Linked DNA regions of Homo sapiens: regions 2, 3, 4 and 5 are each reported to be linked to region 1. The links are microRNA targets in miRTarBase. Many come from high-throughput screens and were not tested one by one. Region 1 holds a microRNA gene; each other region holds the end of a gene's coding sequence.

Region 1 (4,280 bases):
CCTCTCAGTCCTTAAACGGCTGTGGGACCTTCGAAGCTCACGTCAAAGTTCACTGTCTATTCCCAGCTGAATGGAATAGACAGTGTCTACTCTGGCAGCTATCACAGGAAAGGGAGAAACAGTTTCTTTCCCAGAAGCTGCAGCAAGCATCTCCTTGCCTATCACTGGCCCAGTGGGGTCATGGGCCTATTCCGGAAGCAATTGCAGTGGCAAAGGAGAAGAGATCAAGAGATTCGCTTAAGCCTGGGCTGGTGGAGGAAGTGGGGCAGGGTCAATGCAATCAAAGCACACGGCGGGAAGACGGGAGCTTTCATAAAAAAAAAAAAAAAAAAAAAAAACAAGGAGAAATTTAGGAAGGAGAAAAGACATGGGGTAGGGAGGTCCTGATCAGCGTCCACTACAGGGGCCCATGTGCCTTCCCTGAAGTTGCACCCAAACCAAGACGTCTTCAAGGCAGAATAGGATACTGAAAAAGAAGTGCACCGCGAATGTTTCGTCACAAATAAAGCGAAAAAAACACGGGCAACTTCTCATTAAGTACCGCACGTCAGCACCGTTGACAACACTGCTTCTCCGCGGCTGGTATCACTCCTGCGGGCTTCCTGAGAGCACATGGGTCCTGATGCGCACCGGGCAACCGGTGACAAAGATATGGCCGTGCATACAACCCCCTCAAGACCTGGGAGACATCTAACAGGTCTGCCCCCTCTGCACAGGTGGCATTGTGTCCTGGAGCTGCTTGTGAGCACGATGTGTTCAATTTCTCAATAACAAAAAGTCTCCTCCAGTAGCACAGAATATGACAATGGCACAGAAACAGTGATTTTGCATCCTAAAAGTCCTCCTGAGGATACATGAGGAGGGACCAGGAGAGTCACAATAACTCCCCAGATAAGATGGATGAGATCTACCACCCACCCTTTAGGGACAAACAGCAAAGTGTCTGCCCTGATGGAGCCTCTGAGCCAAGGGAGTCGTCATAGAATGGGTAGCGCAAGGGATTTTTTAACATTTGCCTCAAACAGATGGAATGACCAGGGGTCCTGGCACAGCGTCACCACTGTCGATCAGCCTGAGCCGGAGAAGAGCCCCCGGGGCAGACCGGAAGCTGCGGGTTAGGGAGGGATGAATGAGCAATGAATAAAACCCAAGTTCTCAGGTGGTCCACGTGGACAACTGACTTGGTGGTGGCAAATCCTCACCGGTTCCTGCATTCACACCTCACCACAACCCCCTCCCGGGTGGAGTGGGCCTCCCCGCCCCTTGCCTTGGGTTCGGCCGTGTAATTGTTCTGGTCAATGATCTGTGGGTAGAAATATAGCAGTTCCCAGCCTTGGCCTTAAGGAGTTTCTGCGTTTCTAATTACTTTCTTGTGCCTCTGCCGTAGCCATGGGAGCATACCAAGGCCGGGGTGAGAGCTGTGGGTCCCAACTTCAGCCCTCAGGGCAGGCCTTCTCTCCACAAGCCATCCTAGGTATGGGAGGGAGACTGAGGATGAACGGACCAAGACACACACCCGAAATAGAATGTCTGCTCTCAGACAAGATGTCCACTCCCATACCTCTCCATGGACCTGACGCCAACAGCCCTCCCCTGAAGCGCGTGTCACAGCCGGGACACATCTTCCGCAGTCTGACACTGAGGGCATCCAGGGCATCTGGGGCCTCGTAAGGCAAGCAGAGCTGAACAACAGACAGAGATGAGCAACGGCAACAAAGCCCTTTCCCCAAGCATGGACTGAACGCTGCCCACGAAGCGGCTGGATTCTGAGTGGTCCCAACACAGGAAGGGCTCATCTCAATCACGCTGCCAGCTCCTCAGTCCCCCATCCACGACTCACCAGGAGTGCTGCTGACACCAGTGGCCCTGCCGGAATCTAGCTTCATGTCCAGGAAGTCCTCCTATGGAAAAGAGATGGGCCACGTAGCATTCATCAAACACATGGCAAGCTTTGTCAGACAGCCTCTCTTCATGTAGCACAGAATAAAGTGGCCCTCACTACCACAGCTGTCCCAACGCCTGCCCTGTCCTGCACACACACAACACTCCTCAAACCCTTCCGAGGATAAACCACACCCCTGTACCAGGTCACACACACACCTCCTGCAGTCAGCATGTGGTGTGGGGTGGGACTTTCCCTGATGGGGCACTGAAGCCCAGGCCTCTGCAATCCTGGCATTGTCTGTGGCCAGACTATCAGCCCTCCTGGGCAGGATTTGAAACCAAAAGAGAGATTATTCACTGATGATTGCTTATATTGATTTTAACGAGGTAGGAGGAGGGGGCCCCGAAGGGAAACCCCTCCTAAAATCCTGCAGAGTCCCACGGGCCCCACGTCCTCCCACATCTTCTCCGAAGTTGCCATGTGCACCAAGATGTCATCCCACAGATGGACCGGGCGCTGGTGGATAGTCAAACGGGTGACCTACATCGTAAATGAAGTGCACGTCACCGGTCTACCATCCCCTCAGCTACCCTGGAGAGCAGATGGCACCATCGTCCCTTCAATGACGTTGCTAGCGTGTCCAGAAGGCCATCCAAGCAAGATCTCACACTGAAGAGGCGCCACCCACCGTGAATCAACAAATAGACAAACACCACAATGAGCAACCTCCTTCAACCACAGAAGCACAGGCCCTTCTCCAAACTCAGCTTCCCCTCCTAGGGGCCCTCCATGGCTGGGGCCTGAGAGCCACACCCCCACGACGCATGGCACGCTGTCAGCCTCGCTTGCGCCTACCGAGAGTGGAGCCGGCAACGTCCCTCCCTGAAGGCTGCATCAGGAACAGGAAGTGCCTCCAGGGTGGGATTTGATACTAAAAAAGAGGTTTCCCGTGTATGTTTCATCATAAATAAAGAGAAGACAACACGGACAACCTCTCCTTCGAGTATCGAAGATTAGCACTGATCAAAAAACAAACAAAAAAAATCAAAACAGAACTGCCGAATCTTCGCCGATGTTGGTGTCACCTCCAGGAAGATTCCCCGAATCTACATGGCACTGGGTAGACCAGACGTCAGATGGCTTCTATTTGCGTGTCCCAGGTTGCTTTTGGGAAGTCAGCCAAAAGCTCTTCAAGCCTTCACAATGAAAAGAGGTTGCCCGGGAAACATTTTCCGCCAATACAGAGAACACTTTAGGTACAACCTCTTTCCAGGTATTGGAGCTTTCCTGACGGTGGAACCAGGGTTTCCTTGTGGAAGTCCAGGCCACGGGAAGTGCCCCTAGTCATAATGGTTTGCATCCCAAAGTCAGTGCGTCAAGAGAGCTCATGAGTAAATCTCGAATTCTGTGGTCAAGAAGCAGGTGGCTGGGTCTGCAGTTAGCCGGTGCCCAGGCCCCTGTGTGGCACTGGCCATGGGTCCAAGCAGCCTTCCAGGCAAGGTGTGATTCCAAAAACAGATACATGGCACCGAGGAAGCTGTAAGCAAAGTGAGTGCCTGCTACACACGGCTAGGGAGGGAGGGTCGGGGAAGCCAGGAGCACCGCCAGGCCACCTTCCTCCAGGTCAAATCCCACTTAATGCCTTCTGCTGCCTTCAATCCAATTCAGCAGAATCAAGAAATAAAAACGAATCTCATTTCCTGATGTGAGCTCCCCAAATGTTTTAGCCAATTCTGGGCCGGATTTTCTGTTTGCTATAAAACTCCTTTGACAATAATTGTTTTCATGGTGGGGGGAGTACTGTTATCTCCAGACTCTTTTGCATCTCAACAGAGAGTTAGATCAATCCTGACAGGGCTGGGGAGAATCAGGGGTCAGAAAACTTCAGGTTTCCTCTTACAAAGTTGTAAAATTGTGCCCTCTTTTCCCCCGAAGGTGGACCCCGGAGCAGAGGTCTGAGAAGAAAATCCCAGGGCCAGGCTGCGGCTCTGCACCCTTGCCACCTGTCCTTTGACCCCTCCGTAGCCAGCAGAGCACCCAATCTACATGGACCCAGCAGCCGCCTACCCTGGATACCCCGGAGGCAACAGCATACTGCCTGCTGTCACATGGCCTTGACACACTCTCTCTGCCCTCTCTTTATGAGGGCTCTTTTCGGCTGGAAGGAACGGTGTTTGGGTATCAGCTAATAGGAAGGATTGGTGGCGGAGGTCATTGGTGCTACCTCATATGTTCTCTCTGGTTATAAAAAGCAGGGTTGACATGGAAATACCTGGCCCTTCTCCAGAACCTGAGGCCCTCCTCCCTCACAGTCCCATCCCCAAATGCCACAGATGAGCCGAGGACCCACAGTCACAGCTAAGTGCCATCAAAACAAATGCAGCACCAGCAAAAC
Region 2 (4,280 bases), not on the chromosome of region 1:
AAATAGAGTCATTGAAGTGTATGTATAAAAATAAAATGGTGAAAGCTAAGATTTATGCGCTCTTACCATTTTGATCTTGTTTTCAGTGAATACCCTATTCAGCGGTCAAAGAAAGATTCTGAGGGAATAGAAATGGGAGTCGCAGGTTCTGTAAGCCTTCTGCAGAATGTTACGTTGTCCACCCAGCCCATTTCAAGTTTGGATTGGAGTCCAGATAAAAGGGGTCTCTGCGTCTGTAGTTCATTTGACCAAACGGTGAGAGTACTGATCGTTACAAAGCTCAATAAAATTTGACTTCAAGACTTTGGACTTGAGGCTGGGCACGGTGGCTCACTCCTGTAATCCCAGCACTTTGGGAGGCCGAGGCGGGTGGATCAGAAGGTCAGGAGATCGAGACCATCCTGGCTAACATGGTGAAACCCCGTCTCTACTAAAAATATAAAAAAAAATTTGCTGGGTGTCATGGCGGGCATCTGTAGTCCTAGCTACTTGGGAGGCTGAGGCAGGAGAATGGCGTGAACCCGGGAGGCGGAGGTTGCAGTGAGCCGAGATTGTGCCACTGCACTCCAGCCTGGGCAACTGAGCAAGACTGTCTCAAAAAAAAAAAAAAAAAAAAAGACTTTGGACTTGAAACCTTCCAGAGGAACACTCACACAATTTAAGATAGGTTCTGGAGTCCTCTGACCCTCATTGAACAAAGCTGGATTTGGCTGATGATAAAAGACCCCAGCCACAAGCCTCTGGGCCAGCCTCCAGCCTCTCTCGGGGCTTGTTTGCTGACTTGCTGCTGCACGTGGGTATCAGAAGCACCAAGTAAACTATCTCCAGGGCCAGTTCTTTTCTCTCCCTTCCATTTCTAAGTCAATAGTTGTCTATAATTAAACATATTTCAGATTTGTTCTGTGTCCCTGAAGTTCCATATTTTATCTTTATGCTTGTGTTATGTTTTAGTGTCTATAATGTTGTGGTGGGAATCATTTCATTTGGTTTAAAAGAGTTTGCCTTGGAAAAACTGAATTAACCTTCATAAATACATTTTGAGAGATTTCAGTGTGAGTAATTTTCTGGACATAATATTATTGTATAAAATATCAAAATGGTGGGCCAGGCGTGGTAGCTCACGCCTGTAATTCCAGCACTTTGGGAGGCTGAGGCGGGTGAATCACGAGGTCAGGAATTCGAGACCAGCCTGGCCAACATGGTCAAAACCCGTCTCTACTAAAAATACAAAAAATTAGCTGGGCTTAGTGGCGGGCGCCTGTAATCACAGCTACTTGGGAGGCTGAGGCAGGAGAATCACTTGAACCCAGGAGGTGGAGATTGCAGTGAGCTGAGATTGCGCCACTGCACTCCAGCCCTGGCGACAGAGTGAGACTCCGTCTCAAAAAAAAAAAAAACAAATATATATATATATATCTCTCTCTCTCAAAACGGCACGGTTGGTCTAGATTTGGGTAGCTATTTTCTGCAATTTAATTCATAAAACAAAATGCTTTGATTTTAAAGAGCTCTTTTTTACTTAAAATACAGGAACTGAATTGGTGAGACTTTTGGTTTTTGACTGTGGTAAGTGATGGTGAAATGTACAAGATTGTAGGGGTTTTGTAGTCTTATTTTTGGTCATACTTTAAAAATGCATTTTATGAATAAACTTCTGTTTTTGAGATCTACAGAAGCTTTGATTCTGTTACCTTAACAGTAGTAATAAAGTTAACATTGTCACATCATTTTGCTTTATAAATGCTTAATTAGTAGTTTTAATTCACTTTGTTTCTTTAATGTTCAACATATCTTTAGCTAAGCCTTTTGGAATTATTGACTTTACCACATTTTCATTAAGCCTACCCTCCCCCACCTCCATTGAAGAGAACGCAGCCACCTAAAACATTCACAATATGTAAAGTATATGTGATTTCAGGGGATCATGGAGAGTCACTTATTTGGAATATTAAGTTAAGAAAATTAAGGTTTTTTTTTTTTTAGTTTAGAAAATTTTTAGAAGTCTCTCTTAGAACACTTGTATTTGGTAATAGAGTCAACAACAATAAATACCTGTATTTTATTAAATCTAAGATGTCATCAATATCACTGATGCTATGCCATTCAAGAAAACGGAGCCAACTAAAACATTCATAATATGCAAAATTTATGTGATTTCAGGTGATCATGGAGAGTCACTTATTTGGAATATTACGTTGAGAAAATTAAGCTTTTTTTTTGTTGTTGTTTCCAAATTTTTTTTTTTTTTTTTTTTGAGGCAAATTTTTTTTTTTTCTTGTTCTGTCACCCAGGCGGGAGTGCAGTGTCATGATCTCGGCTCACCTGCAACCTCTGCCTCCCGGGTTCAAGCAATGCTTCTGCCTCAGTCTCCCGAGTAGCTGGGATTACAGGCATGCACTACCATGTCCTGCTAATTTTTGTATTTTTAGTAGAGATAGGGTTTCACCATGTTGGCCAGGTTGGTCTTGAACTCCTGACCTCAGGTGATCCGCCCGCCTCAGCCTCCCAAAGTGTTGGGATTACAGACGTGAGTCACCGCACCCAGCCCCAATGTTTTATAGAACAATGGGATATAATTATGAAAGTAAAAATTAAATTGAACTTTTAAAAAAGTTTATATCTACTTTTTTTTAATTTGCAAAGAAAAAAATGGAAAATTTGTGGAAATCTCTCCTAGGACACTTGTATTTGGTAATATAATAGAATCAACAACAATAAACACCTGTATTTCATTAAATCTAAGATGTCATTGATATCACTGATGCTAGGCTGGTATGATGAAACTGTGATAAAATCCTTTCTTTTTATCACTATTTGCTTTATATTAATTGAGTGTTCTTTTAATTTTATTTACACATAGTTTTTTTTCCATTGTGTATCACTTGTGTGCATCCTTAAAAAGAACCACATAAACAGGAGACTATTATTCTAGGTAAGGTAACTCAGGAATGGAAAACCAAACATTGTATGTTCTCATAAGTGGGAGCTAAGCTATGAGGATGCAGAGGCATGAGAATGACACACTGGGCTTTGGGGACTCGGGGAAAGATGGGAAGGGTGTGAGGGATCAAAGACTACAAATCAGGTTCAGTGTTTACTGCTCGGGTGATGGGCGCACCAAAATCTCACAGATCACCACTAAAGAACCTACTCATGTAACCAAATACCACCTGTTCCCCCCAAACTTATGGAAATAAAAAAATTAAAGAAAAATTTATACAAAATAAATTTGGTATGCTATTCCTTAGATTCCTTCATATTCAGAGTTTAATTCTTCTAAATCACTTTTTGAATTCAGAGCCATCAGTGTTCATGGTTTTCCTTATAATATTGTCCTTTGTGCATAAAAGTGTTTGTGATGTAGCATTTCTTTAAAACATGTTCCACTATTGCCTTCAGGGTTTTCTTTCAATTCACTGACACTTCTTCAACATGTTTTTGTGTATACATACATGCAGGCAGTGACAACTGTCAAGACTGCAGCCTGGCTGACCACGATTATTTCAGTTCCCTATTGCTGTATAACAAACCACTGCAGACCTTCATATCTTAAACACTAACTATCATTTATTTTGCTTAGGAGTCTATGATTTGGGCAGGGTTCAGCAAGGAAGGCTCATCTATGCTCCATATAGCATGAGGCAGGCAGCTCTACTAAAGGCTGGTGGACCTGCTTCCAAGATGGCACTCACTCATATTGCTTGCAAGTTGGTGCTGGCTGTTAGCTGGGACCTCAACCAGATCTGAGAAGCAAGGGCTGAGCTCGCCACATGGCATAGGGTTCCTGAGCATGGTGGCCAGGTTCCAAGGGTGAGCATCCCAAGAGAAGACCAGGCAGAAGCTATCTTGTTTTTTTAATGACCTATCTTCATAATTTACTTAGCAATCACTTTGCCACACTATTAGTTGAGGCAATCACAACCTCCTATCCCAAGTGCAAGGGCAGAGTACATACATTCTACTTCCTTTTTCTTTGTGTGTGTGTGTGTGTGAGACAAGGTCTTACTCTGTTGCTCTGTTGCCCAGGCTGGAGTGCAGTGGCACCATCATTGCTCACTGCAGCCTCAACCTCCTGGGCTTAAAGAATCCTCCCACCTCAGCTACCAGAATAGCTAGGACTACAGGTGTATGCTGCCACACCCAGCTAAATGTTTAAAATTCCCTGTGGAGATGAAGTAAATTCTACTTTTTGATGGGGTCTTGGCTAGGTTCTGAAAGAGCATGTGAGCTGGGCGTGGTGGCTCACGCCTGTAATCCCAGCACTTTGGGAGGCCAAGGCA
Region 3 (4,280 bases), not on the chromosome of region 1:
ATACAGATTTGGAACAAGTTGGATGTTACACAATGGAATGTCACCAGGTGTCTCTAAGGTCATGTGAATTGGGGCTGAGGGTTAATGATCAGGACTTGGTGTCCACTCTCCACTCAGACTCATTCCCTAGACCCATGTAAGAACCCAGAAGGCCAGGTCTCTCATCTGACTCTTCAGTGGAGAAATATGCCCTACCTGGTCTCAATCTACCCTTGTTTCTTTCTCTCCAGTGGTACCTGGATTACTATCCTAGGTCAAATAGTTAAAGCAACCCCTTCTTCTACATATTGAGGTGCTCCTGCTACCTGGTGTTTATGTGGACCACTCTAGTTGCTCAGAGCTCCCAGACCATGGGGATGCTCTGTCTGAGGACGTTTCAGGTCCTGAGTTCATAGTGAATGGAAGCTGTGAGTTCAGGGCCCATCCCCTCCCAGAAGGATCTTGAACCACCTTCTGTTTCTTTTGCTCCTTGGGCCAGGTCAACCCGGGGAACCTGGCTATGCTAAAGATGGACTTCCTGGGATCCCTGGCCCTCAAGGGGAGACAGGACCAGCTGGACATCCTGGCCTCCCAGGACCTCCCGGTCCCCCAGGCCAATGTGACCCTTCCCAGTGTGCCTACTTCGCCAGCCTTGCTGCCCGGCCGGGTAATGTGAAGGGTCCCTAAAGGACTCTGGAAAGCCAGAAGACTGCAGTGGATTTCTGAAACTTGAACTCAGAGCCCAGTGGGAAGCCAGAGGTCTTGAAAGACTTCAGCCATGTGTTCCTTTTTTTTTTCTTTCTTTTATCGTTTGCTTTTTGTTTTATTTTCTTGAGAGACCTCAAAATTATTAAATCCAACAGACGCTGCCGGTCGGTCAGATTATTATTAATATTATTGTTGTTGTTAATTATTATTATTATTTCATATGCTGATGCTTTGTGAGTTCTTTTCCACTCCTTTAAAGTTGGGAAAACTTGATTCGTGGGGCAGGAGATTGTTTCTTCATTCTTCTGACAGCCCCCATCTGACGCGTAACTGCCCATTTTAAGGAAACTCTTGGTGCTACAAAACCCTGACCAGACACTTGGCAAATTTACCTCTTTCTTCAAAAGAAAAACTTTAAGAAAATGAGCCAATGGGCTTCATTCTCAGTCATGCCCGGAGATCACCCAGGAGAAATAATACAAACACCACCACTGTCCAGAGAGAGTAAAGAAGCAGAAAGAGAAAGAATTTGCAACCATGAGGAATGTTCCCACCTCCCGACGGGACGTGCATTTGGAAAACACAGAATCAGCCCTCAGGGTGCACTCCAGCCACCTCAGTGCTCTAAGCTCACAGAAGTGAAATAATGTCTGTGGGTTGGCAATGGCTTTGTGGGATCATATGTCTTGGCCAAAGATGGGAAAACCTATGTTGAAGAGGCAGCCCTTGAGTGTTAATTTGTCTTCTAAACTGTGTAAGGCCCCTTCAAGTTCCTCTTGTTGGTTTCAATTATATTAATTATAAAACAAGTGGATGTGGTGACCATCCACTTGTGTTTCCCTAATGATGGGCAGTTGGCCAGGGCACTGACCAGAGCTGGGAAATTTGTATCTCCAAGGCGGCTCTGTCTCTGAAATAAATGGCATCAAGTGCATGTGTGTATGCGACATGCCCTGCCTGAACAGGTGCTCAATAAATCCAAGTTTCCTTCTCTTGAGTTCCTCTTGATGATTGATTTCTTGTATTCGACTTCCACCTGAATGTGAACTCCTCAAGCACTGGGATGTATCTTTTTCTTGTGAGAACCGTAGCACACAGTCCACATGTTCAGCCCACCTGGTGAATGAACGAGGGAGTGAATGTGTGTGCCAGACTGAGCTAGTCCAGGGCCGTTCATTAGCCTCCCTTCATATGGAAGCAGACATTTAGATGTGCACATTTATGCAGGATCACAGTGGGGAGGGAGTGAAGCAAGTTGGAAGGTTTTAGCAGAACCTTTCCTGTTAAACTGCATCTAGAGGCCAAATGAGTCACCAATACTCTTCCTGCATTTGTTCTTGACTGACAGATTGACTGGTGGACCGACTGATCGATCCATTGATTCATCCATTCATTAATTTGTCCATTCACCCAAGCTGTTAGCCACTTACAGACTAAAGCAGTAGATGTTTATCAAGAACTTCCTTTGTGTGATCCCCTGTTCTGGATGCCTCTAATTGATTTAGAAACTGGGAACATAAACATTTCAAGAAGTTTGATGTTTCCATGGGTAAAGAAGTATTATTGCAATGATTTAAAAATGAAATCTGATACCCATTCCTTGTGTTCAGTCAGCTGGTGCTGATTCTGGGGCTGGATGGGTGTCAGGGGTCCAAAAGAAGCCATTCCTGTTGGTGCAGAATGAGACAGCCTCCCTCTCAGTCTTTCTCACGTTTACCATCTCAGTTGGTTTTCACAACCATTGAAGATGCAGGGGTATTACTCTAATACCCTTTTTCATTTGAAGAAACTATCTCAGGGACCTCAGAAATACTCTCATCCAGTGACTTTTAACATTTTCTGACCATGACCCACAGTAAGAGGTGTAATTTCTTAGTGACTCAGTACATGCATACATATATAAAGCAAGGGTTTTGAAATAAAATATCTACCTGATCAAGTGTGCTTGATCGAACATTTACTATTCTATTTCATTTTTATTGTTGTTGTATGAAATAGACTAAGTTTTAGAGCAGTTTTAGATTCACAGCAAAATTAAGAGGAAGGTACAGATTTCCATGTGCTCCCTGCCCACCCCCAACCACCCACATACACACACAGCCTCCCCCACCCACCCACCTTCCAAATCCCACACCCTAGCGGTACGTTTGTTACAGTTGATGAATCTACATTGACACGTCACTATCACCCAACATCCACAGTTGACATGAGGGTTCACTCTTGCTGTTGCACACTTTATGGGTTTGGACTAATGGATACTGATATGCCATTATCCACCATTATAAGATCATACAGAAGAGTTTCACTGCCCTAAAAAGTCTCTGTTGTCTGCCTCTTCATACTCCTCTTCTCTCCTAACCTGTGGAAACTGCTGGTTTTTTAAAATTGTCTCCATAGTTTTGTCATTTCCAAAATATCTAGTTGGTATCATACAGCCTTTTCAATTTAGCTTCTTTCACTTAGTATTTTGCATTTAGATTCCTCTGTGGCTTTTTCTTGGCTTAATAACCCCCTTTTTTTTAGTGCTGAATAATATCCCATTGCCTGGAAGTTTCAGAATTTATCCATTTACCTACTGAAGGGCATCTTGGTTGCTTCCAAGATTTGGCAGTTATGAATAAAGCTGCTATAAACATATCTGTGCAGGGTTTTGTGTGGATGTGATTATTCAACTCCTTTGGGTAAATACCAAGAAGCACAATTGCTAGATCGCATGGTAAGAACATGTTTAGTTTTGTAAGAAACTGCCAAATTGGTCTTCCAAATAGCTGCATCCTTTTCCATTCCTACCAGCAGTGAGTTTCTGTTGCTCCACCATCTCACCTGCATTATGTGCTGTTAGTGTTTGGGATTTTGGTCATTCTAATAGGTGCGTAGTGGTATCTCATTGTTGCTTCCATTAGCAATCTCCTAATAACATGATATCCAGCATATTTTCATATGCTTATTTTCCACTTGAATATCTTCTTTGGTGAAGTTTATGTTCAGATGTTTTGCCCATTTTAAAAAATTAAGTTGTCTGATTTTAATTTTTGAGTCTCAAGAGTTTTCTGTATATTTTAGGTAAAAGTTCTTTGTCAGAAACCTGGCAGTCACAGGCCTGAAGTTCCCAATTACTGGTACAGGGTGAGGTGTTCACCTGCCAGGTGGGACCAGAGGTCAACAATGTGAGCTGGACAGAAAACCAACCCAAATGTGTTGCATTGAAAGGATGGCTTTTCATTCTGAGACTGGAATCTCTCTAATTTTTAGGGTTTAAAATGACTCATACTGTGAGAAATAATAGTGAGAGAAAGAGAATGTGGGGTGTGTGTGTGTATGTGTGTGTGTGTGTAGAGTAATATTTACTTCTTTGTTTTTTATATCCTTACTTGACAAAATAAAGATCTGGCTCACCTCCCTTATATAGTTCCCAATAATTATTATTTTGTAATTAGCAGTTCGTAATTCCCACACCTGGGAATATCTGGTGTAATCCAAATCCTTATTTTTCCCCCACAAATGGGAAAAACAAGGCTCAGAAAGAAAGAGTGATTTTCCCAAAATTCTAAGTGTGGAGCCCAGTATTTGGATACAAGAGTTCATACCACTTC
Region 4 (4,280 bases), not on the chromosome of region 1:
GGTAGTAAAAGATAAAAACAGTTCTTAATGCAGAAAGGTCACCTACTAAAAGAAAATGAACATAAAAAGATAAAAGCAAACTACCATCATTTTGATGCCTCCCAAAGAGAAAAATCTTTAGTTATCTTCAACATAAACTGCCAAGGAGCACAGGTACGGTCCAGACATCACGGTAAATATGCATAAAATATTGTCTAGCTGGATAATAAACACCAGCAGTAGGAAAAAGGAGGGGATGAAAATGTCTCACACCCAGTAACTTTTAGGAACATAGCAAAATTAGCAGGCCACTGTCAACTCTAAAATGGGAACAGCAGGCGCCTCTGAGGGAGATAGGAAGTAGCTAAATGATGGAAAATATTAAACAAGATAGCTTAGAAGATTCATATTTATTCCAAATGGGAGGCTGAATCTCTCAGATGTCGATTTTGACACATTGGCACTATTTTTGTTTCTGATTTATTGCCTTGGCCGTAAGTTCAAAGGCAACAATAAAGTGTACTTTCATTAATACCACCATGGACTTTCGAGTATTAATATGACAAGAAAAGACAACTATTCATTTTTTTTAAGGGGACTGGACACACAAACTTCAGGAGGGAAGAATCCCCTCTCCCATTAGAATCCCTCTATCTTGATAAAATGGTTGCTTTATTGGTCAGATTTTGGACTTGGATCGTCTGTTATAATATTAATAGTACACAGCATGTAAGATTTTCTGCATTCATTTGAAATTCCTAATACCAACCATCTTTTAATTTATAAAAAAAGAGGGAAACTTACAATAAAACAAAAAATACTACCCTCACAGATGATTAATAGCATGCAATCTATGAAATATTACATACATTAAAAGTCTCCAATTACTGTGTGCCTGACCCATCACACAGTATCCTTCCAAGACAATCTATAGAATTCAAAACTGTACAAAAATTATAAAATATGCAGAAAACCCAAAAGGTACTGTTTGTAAAACAAAGATCACACACACATTAGTACTAAATAGGGAAAAAAAATCAGCAGACCCATGGACTACCCCTGCTCCCAACCACAGGTCTTCAGTATAAAGGACTTCACCAGTGTCTTCTGCACTGCCCCCATCCCGTAGGGGTCCAAAAGACCAGCTGCATTCCTGCTGACCGCCACTAACTCTGTTTTCTGCATAGTTGTCTTCCCTGCTTCTGTAGTGGTGAGCTGTGGGAACTTTTTTTTTTTTTTTTTGATGGAGTCTCGCTCTGTCACCAGGCTGGAGTGCAGTGGCACAATCTCGGCTCACTGCAACCTCTGCCTCCCAGGTTCCAGTGATTCTCCTGCCTCAGCCTCCCAAGTAGCTGGGACTACAGGTGTGCGCCACCACGCCCAGCTAATTTTTGTGTTTTTAGTAGAGATGGGGTTTCACCATGTTGGCCAGGATGGTCTCAATTTATTGACCTCATGATCCACCCACCTCGGCCTCCGAAAGTGCTGGGATTACAGGCATAAGCCACCACACCCAGCCTGTGGGAACTATTTATTGGATTTCAAAACACCCTCTGCCTCATTAATCCACTAAGCTTTCTCAGCAAAAAGCTGTTTAAATAAATAATGGGAACATCTAATTTAAAACAGTTTTTCTAATTATAGACCAGTACACGAAGAAGAGCTTAACTTATCCAAGTATAGTCTAGTTTGGGTCCATAATGGAGCTGAAGGCTCAGAGGACATTCAGGGCCATTACACTGCAGGAAAACAAGGAATAAGGGATGTAGAAATGACCTAAGAAAAGCACGAAGTGGAATGTATACTGGAGGCAAGTTAATGAAAGCTAATAAATACAAAGTGCTGGGAAAAATCTAAAAGCAAAATAGCTATTGTAACTTGCAATGCATTAAAAACAACTTTAAAACCAAAAAGTCTTGATAAGGAAACTCTATAGTGGGGTCTCAGTTAAATGCTGATGATTTTTAATGCTCAGATAACATTAAGTGGAATATTAACTTCTGCATCCGACACCATCTGAATTTTCTCACACACTACTACACTTGTTCACTTTTCAATCAAGTTCCACTTTCTGAACTTGTTCAAAACCTCATTTGAAATATATCCAGCTACTGCTTTTCCCCTTTCACCTAGCACAGGGCAGTTACCTGGCAAAGCTCTATTCTGGCCAAGTCACTGGGACTGAGTAGAACCCACGTTAGCAGCTCTGGACCTGAACAGGAGCTGGCCCAACATCACAGTGACCACCCACAAAGAGACAAGCCCTCCTGGATTTTTTTCAGCATTTCTTATACTGACTACAGTAGTGATGATTAAAGTTATCTGCCCTACAGACTCCACTGAATTTGAAGCTGTATTTATTGTACAGATGGGGGAAATGTGTTTTATTGTGTCAGTTATATTAATTTTTATCAATGTGATTAGATACATATTTTGGCCTATTAATCTTATTCATTATATTCTTAGTCTGAGATGGGTTTTAATTCTGACTAACAGCAGCTACTTAAGAGTCCAATCATACAAAATCAGGAGAGTATTACCCTTTCTACAGCTAAGCGAGTCAGTAATACAGCAGCAACTAATACTGGCCATTAATAACGTCCAGAGAGCACATTAGCAAACCTTGTACTCCCAGTGACTGTCAGGAGACTTGAAAATAACTACTATTCTCTTCCAAAGTAGAATAGCGTTTTTCTAGATAGTGAAGGAAATGATAGTCATAGTTGGTCTGAACTCCAAGATCCTACTCCTCAAAACAGCACCGAAGCAGGGGTTCGGGATGCCTGCTAAGAGCATTTCCACAGTTCAAGTCTCTTCAGAACCTTAGGGACCTTCGTGTCTAGCTTCACACACCCACCTCCACATATGAACCAGCCTACCACACTTCACATCTGGGTACACTGGCCATTAGCAACAATGCAGTCTCATGCAGCAGCACATTAAAATCAAACGGGTGGCAATCGTTCACCACCCTCAGAGTGTTGGGAGACTTTCACATTTCATCATCCTTATAATCCACAAACAGAAACATGAAGGGATGCAAGTGAGTTCAGCATTCACTCGTTTGGTGCACTCAAGTGCTGAGAGAATGCAGAATTTACAGTGTCACAGAGGAAAAAAGCCATCTGAAATAATTGTAAAAATGGTTAAGTGTGGTATTTAAATGTTGGTTCCCTCCTCTTCATACAAGTGGAAGAAAAGAAGGGGCTAGGGTACCCACTGGGCCATGAGGTTAACCCCTTAGCACAGGCAATGAAGAACATCCAATGCCACAGATTCTGCAGGAGGAGAAATCCCAAGGGTATACAGTATTCCTGAGAAAGATCCCAGATTTTTCTGAATCAGTCTTAATCTGATTTTGTTTTGGCTACACAGTTATGCTGTTATACCTTTGACATACATAAAAATGGTCATTTTATTTCAATCCAGACAGCTCAGCATTGTACAAATGATGGCAGAAAGATCCATTTGTTCAGACTCAGCTTGCTTTGTTTTTAATACTGGGGAATAAACCAAAAAAAAAAGTGTAATTTTTATCATTTGTATCCTTCATTCTACTTTACTGGAGTGGAATCCCCAGGGCCTTCAGATAATCTGGGAAGACCTGACTATTCCTGTGAGGCAAGCACAGCCCTGCTGAGCTTTACTCAGAATAATGCATGATAGACTCAACGTAATTCCCAGGAAAAAGCCCAGTCACTCCATTCATAACTCCCTCATACCAACCATCGTCATTCTTCTTGATGACATAAATAATGGCTCCTTCCTGAAAGGACAGCTCATCTTCCTTGTCTTTTGTATAGTCATAAATTGCCACAACTAGGAGGGAAGAAAACAAAACAGGATGTGAAAGACAGTAATATTCCTAGAAAGACAGAACCAAGCCAGTGAATAGCTATCTGTTCCCAAATCCTGTAGCACTCAAACATGGTGACTTTCTAAACACCAACCAAAACTTACATGTTTTTTTTTCTAAGTAATACCCAGTCATATACAATGAAATTCCATTTTCTAGGGATGTTAGGCTCTAAATTGAGTACAAATGGGGAAAAAGCACATTTAATCAAATGTGCTTTTGATGACCTTTTAAGAGCCTACAGGGAAGTACCTCATTGAAGAGGTACACAATCCTAGAATCAAGAAAGATGGCTGTTTCTTCATTTGAGTTTGTGTTGAGATACCATATTGTGGTTTTTTTTTTTTTTTTTTTAAAGCTTTTCTTTACCTTAGAATTATACTAGGGCAATGAGATACACTATGAGAGTCAAGTGAGAAACCAGACTAATGGAACAGCAGATTTC
Region 5 (4,280 bases), not on the chromosome of region 1:
GCTATTTTTTCTTACGACTATTATACTGTCTTGTGTGTGTGCCTCATTGTTTTGGTAAGAAAAAGTGGACACTGTGTGTGGCAAACCCTGGACATCAAATTCTCACCCCTGAGCAGGCTTTCTTGTTGCTGCTGGTTGTGAGTTGGAGTCTTCTGTTTTTGTTTTCATTTTTTGTTTTGTTTGAACCTTTGTAAACTACTGTGTAAAGGTTTCACTTTCTCCTGTGTGGCCACTGAAGTCTCTGCCTTCTGGTCTACTAACAATTTGATGGAGATTTTTAAAACATGCCTGAACGCAAACCCAAAATTCTCTCAAGCTCTTTGCCATGGGATCCCTCTAGGGAGCTTAGCCAGGATTTTGATTTTTTTTTTTTTTTTTAGACGGAGTCTAGCTCTGTCGCCCAGGCTGGAGGGCAGTGGCGCGATCTCGGCTCACTGCAACCTCCACCTCCCAGGTTCACTAGCCAGGATTTTTACAACTCTCATTTCAGCCTTCATTTCCTGCTTGCATGGAGCCTCGGGATCATCAGAGGTAAAACATAGGGTTTCTCAGATTTTTATAATCTTGCATGGACATGTATGATTGAACTCAATCCTTGGTATACCTCAGTGCTATTCAAAGCCCTTACTATCTCATGTAATTCTCCCCCCAGACTCTTCCTTAATAGGCTTTTCATTCTGTCATCTGTTTTCCCTGTTATCCCTCACCCAGGCAACTTCAGCAAGTGTATTTGTCTTTAAGTGCTTTTAATGACACTGGCACCCCCCAATAAATCAGCTTCAGTCTGTGTAGATCTAAAAAGGGTGAAATAAAGGCAAGCCCTTGAGCCAACCCTTCAAGGAACCACTAAGATAGATGGAGGCACACAACCACAATTCTTTGAGAACAAAGATTCTTCATCCTGTGGCATCAGCGTGCTGGCCTGGGAATGAGGGACTCCATGTTCTCAGCAGCCATCAAGCTGCAGAGTGGGGAAGAGTAGGTGGGTGAGTCAAATTACCACAACTCAGCTGGGTGCAGTGGCTCACGCCTGTAATCCCCGCGCTTTAGGAGGCCGAAACGGGCGGATCACCAGGTCAGGAGATCCAGACCACCCTGGCCAACATGGTGAAACCCCATCTCCACTAAAGATACAAAAATTAGCTGGGCGTGGTGGTGGGTGCCTGTAATCCCAGCTACTCGGGAGGCTGAGGCAGGAGAATCGCTTGAACCCGGAAGAAGGGGCTTGCAGTGAGTCGAGATCATGCCACTGCACTCTGGCCTGGTGATAGAACAAGATTCCACAAAAAAAAAAAAAAAAAAAAAGCCACAACTCTCTTCCTGAAATTAAGCAGCTTCTTCCTTCACTCACGGTTCCCCTGGAGGTTGTAAATTATTAGATTCAAATTTTCCACAAAGGCTGATTTTGACAGTTATTTCCCAGTTTAATTTTTGTTTTACCAAAGACTACTTTTAAAATTCCCTACCTTGAAACTTGCAGTGAGATCACTCCATTAATTTTAAACAGAATTTTAAAATTCTGATATTATTGCTCTATATGCTCTAAATAGGGCTTTTGTCTATTTGTAGGAATGCTTCCTCTCAGTGCAAATTATCTAGAATAAAGAAGGGAAGTCTGTTTCTCCAAGGAGAGGCACAGGAGGCAGGGCTATATAGGTAACCTGGATGACAAATTACAATATGCCATGGAGTATGTGGACATTGAAGATATGCAATATTGAGGTGGGAAGATGGCTTCAATGACTTCAGAATTTTCAGTCATGGGAAAACAAGAGGTTTCCTTAAATTGTGATAGCCTGGCCGGGTGCAGTGGCTCACACCTGTAATCCCAGCACTTTCAGAGGCTGAGTTGGACGGATCACTCAAGACCAGCCTAGGCAATATGGTGAGACCCCTTCTCTACTAAAAGTACAAAAAATTAGGGGGGTATGGTTGCATGCATCTGTGGTCTCAGCTACTGGGGAGGTTGAGGTGGGAGAATCACTTGAGCTCAGGAAGTCGAGGCTGCAGTGAGTTGTGATCGTGCCACTGCATGCCAGCCTGGGCGACAGAGTGAGATCCTGTCTCAAAAAAAAATTATCTTATTTTAGAAACATGTCAGAAAAATCAAAGAACAAGCCCAGTTGAAACTACAGTAAGATCCTTTGATTCACCTTCAAGGTTTCTTTCCACAGCTGATTATGACTTGATTCTGAAATCAGAGTTTTGAAAAGGAACATAGAAAACACTTTTAGCCAGTTATTCTGCTAATCATCAGAATCTTCACATCATGTCCAGAAGTTGCATTTATCAGAAGTGGCTGAGGAGGTTTTGCATTGGGAATCAAATATTCTCATCAGAGAAGCCCCAGACTCACTGAGGCAATGTCACTGAGAGATACTACAGATGACATGATCGTGACATCTCTGTGGGGAGATCAGGTCCAGGAGCCTGTCTCTAACTAAGGACTCAGGTGCCCCAGCTTATGGTGACTGACACATCCCTGTACAGAGCTTGTTGCCAAGACCACCCCAGTGAGTGCTTCTGTACATTTAGAGCAAAAGGCAGAACATAAAGATCTCAAACAGGAGAAGAGCTCAGAGCTGAGGGTGAGCAATAGCATTGGGCAAAATAGGTTTACCCCTGCCTGGCTCTGAGCCACACCATCCATGCCCCGGCTGGACCAAGACAGTGGCACATTAAGCCAGGTGCTTGGCTTGAGCTCCTGGCTCAATGTGGGACCAGAAAGCTCAGGTTTACTGTATACCCCTGTGTCCTAGAAACACTGTCAAAGGGAGAAATTAGGACAGTTCTCCTTAGAAACTGAGCCAAGGATCACTTGAGGTCAGGCGATCCAGACCACCCTGGCCAACATGGTGAAACCCCATTTCCACTAAAAATACAAAAATTAGCTGGGCATGGTGGTGGGCGCCTGTAGTCCCAGCTACTCAGGAGGCTGAGGCAGGAGAATCACTTGAACCCGGGAGGCAGAAGGCTGCAGTGAGCTGAGATCACACCACTGCACTCCAGCCTGGGCAGCAGAGCGAGACTCCATCTCAAACAAAAAAAAAAAAATTTTTTTTTCAGCACGTAAAGACCCTAAAACCTACCCACCTTGAGTAGGTATCCTCTCACCTATGGAGGCCTATTAGGTACAGCAACCAGATGCTTAGCAATGGGGCATTGTAAATACAGTGTCAGGGTTGGAAACATTATCAGAGGATGCCCAGTTCAACTCCCTCTTCTGAAAGAAGGTGAAAAGGAGACGCTTTTTCTGAGGCCACACATATCTGACATTTCTCCACAGCTTAGAGAAGTCACCCTTCATCCCATGGAACACACACAAGTTTGTGAGCGGAGCTGGCTAAGAGCAGGGGAGATACGGAAATGAATGCCAGTTACGGTGTTAGGTAGATCCGGGAAGAACATGGTGCAGCAGGAATACGAAGTCAGGAGGGAAGGTGAGATGAGGATTTCATTTCGAAGGATTCCTAGGGACACCTTCTAACAACTCTCCCTAGACCAAAACAAAAACAAAAACAAAAACAAAAACAAAACCCAGAAAAACAAAAACAAGAAACAAACCATGAAAGGATCATAGTTTCTTTAGTGTTACTCCACCGTGCCCACTGATGAAACAATCATGCTTCACAGCTTTTTCCAATGCATTTTATCCTTTATTACTTCATATAATCCTTTTAATACTCTTGAGACAGTGTAGGAATTTGAAGTGGTTGACTGGATCAAGGTCACACACACACACACACACACACACACACACACACACACACACACATCAAATAGGAAAATTATAGTCCTAATTCTCTTGCATCCCAGTCACGGTAGTAATTTATAATAAATACTGTTTACGTACAACATGATCAAAGGGGTTGCCTAGATGCTGTATTTGACGTTCTCATGGCTGCAGACATTCTGGGAAATTTGAAAAACATGTAATCCAAATTAGAATTAGGTATTATTGAACCTGGCTGAGAAGCAGGTGTCACACCAATTTCTCTGCCTTCCTTTAAAGACCAAGTTTCAGACAGAAAGATCAAACTGGGTTTTCTTTCCTTTACAGTCATCAGCAACTGCTGGGTTTGTGTGTTCAGGCCAGTTAATGGAAGCCTGAAGGAAAACAGAGAGAGAACGCCGTTAATGCTACATGTGAGGTCTCAGCTTTGTTGCATCAATGACTAATTCCCCATATGGCATCCTTTGGGTATTCTTGGGAGTATCTCAAGCCATCTCTGAGGAAACAAAAATCTGTTCCAGACTGAAAACCGTGAGATAGCGATTTC

What was found. The annotated mature microRNA hsa-miR-1193 reads GGGAUGGUAGACCGGUGACGUGC and lies in region 1 at 2,444-2,466, opposite strand. An mRNA with a match to its seed (bases 2 to 7 or 8) in the 3' UTR can be bound and repressed. Matches are read on the target gene's strand: a 7mer-m8 pairs with bases 2 to 8, a 7mer-A1 pairs with bases 2 to 7 and ends in A, and an 8mer does both.
Region 2: the mRNA of DNAAF10 is a reported target of hsa-miR-1193. Seed matches in the 3' UTR shown: 7mer-m8 at 396-402.
Region 3: miRTarBase lists COL22A1 as a target of hsa-miR-1193. Seed matches in the 3' UTR shown: 8mer at 1,509-1,516.
Region 4: the mRNA of ABI2 is a reported target of hsa-miR-1193. Seed matches in the 3' UTR shown: 7mer-m8 at 1,411-1,417.
Region 5: miRTarBase lists NLRP11 as a target of hsa-miR-1193. The part of its 3' UTR that is shown has no 7-base or 8-base seed match.

What each region holds. Positions count from the first base shown.
Region 1 is chr14:101,028,247-101,032,526 of GRCh38, reverse strand. It overlaps MIR1193 (microRNA 1193), which reads right to left and starts at 2,475; the gene lies at 2,398-2,475. It overlaps LOC124903407 (mucin-2-like), which reads right to left. Exons shown (of 5, transcript XM_047432049.1): 5 at 1-4,280. It overlaps MIR494 (microRNA 494), which reads right to left and starts at 2,893; the gene lies at 2,813-2,893. MIR543 (microRNA 543) reads right to left here and starts at 540; the gene lies at 463-540.
Region 2 is chr2:68,127,252-68,131,531 of GRCh38, reverse strand. It overlaps DNAAF10 (dynein axonemal assembly factor 10), which reads left to right. Exons shown (of 8, transcript NM_138458.4): 8 at 87-1,727. The coding sequence ends at 294. Among named protein-coding and RNA genes, the nearest start is that of DNAAF10, 28 kb to the left of the region's middle.
Region 3 is chr8:138,585,639-138,589,918 of GRCh38, reverse strand. COL22A1 (collagen type XXII alpha 1 chain) reads left to right here. Exons shown (of 65, transcript NM_152888.3): 65 at 479-1,684. The coding sequence ends at 666. Among named protein-coding and RNA genes, the nearest start is that of FAM135B, 91 kb to the right of the region's middle.
Region 4 is chr2:203,426,695-203,430,974 of GRCh38, reverse strand. ABI2 (abl interactor 2) reads right to left here. Exons shown (of 12, transcript NM_001375670.1): 12 at 1-3,798. The coding sequence ends at 3,623. Among named protein-coding and RNA genes, the nearest start is that of ABI2, 100 kb to the right of the region's middle.
Region 5 is chr19:55,781,765-55,786,044 of GRCh38, forward strand. NLRP11 (NLR family pyrin domain containing 11) reads right to left here. Exons shown (of 10, transcript NM_001394894.2): 10 at 3,635-4,107. The coding sequence ends at 3,861. Among named protein-coding and RNA genes, the nearest start is that of RFPL4AL1, 15 kb to the left of the region's middle.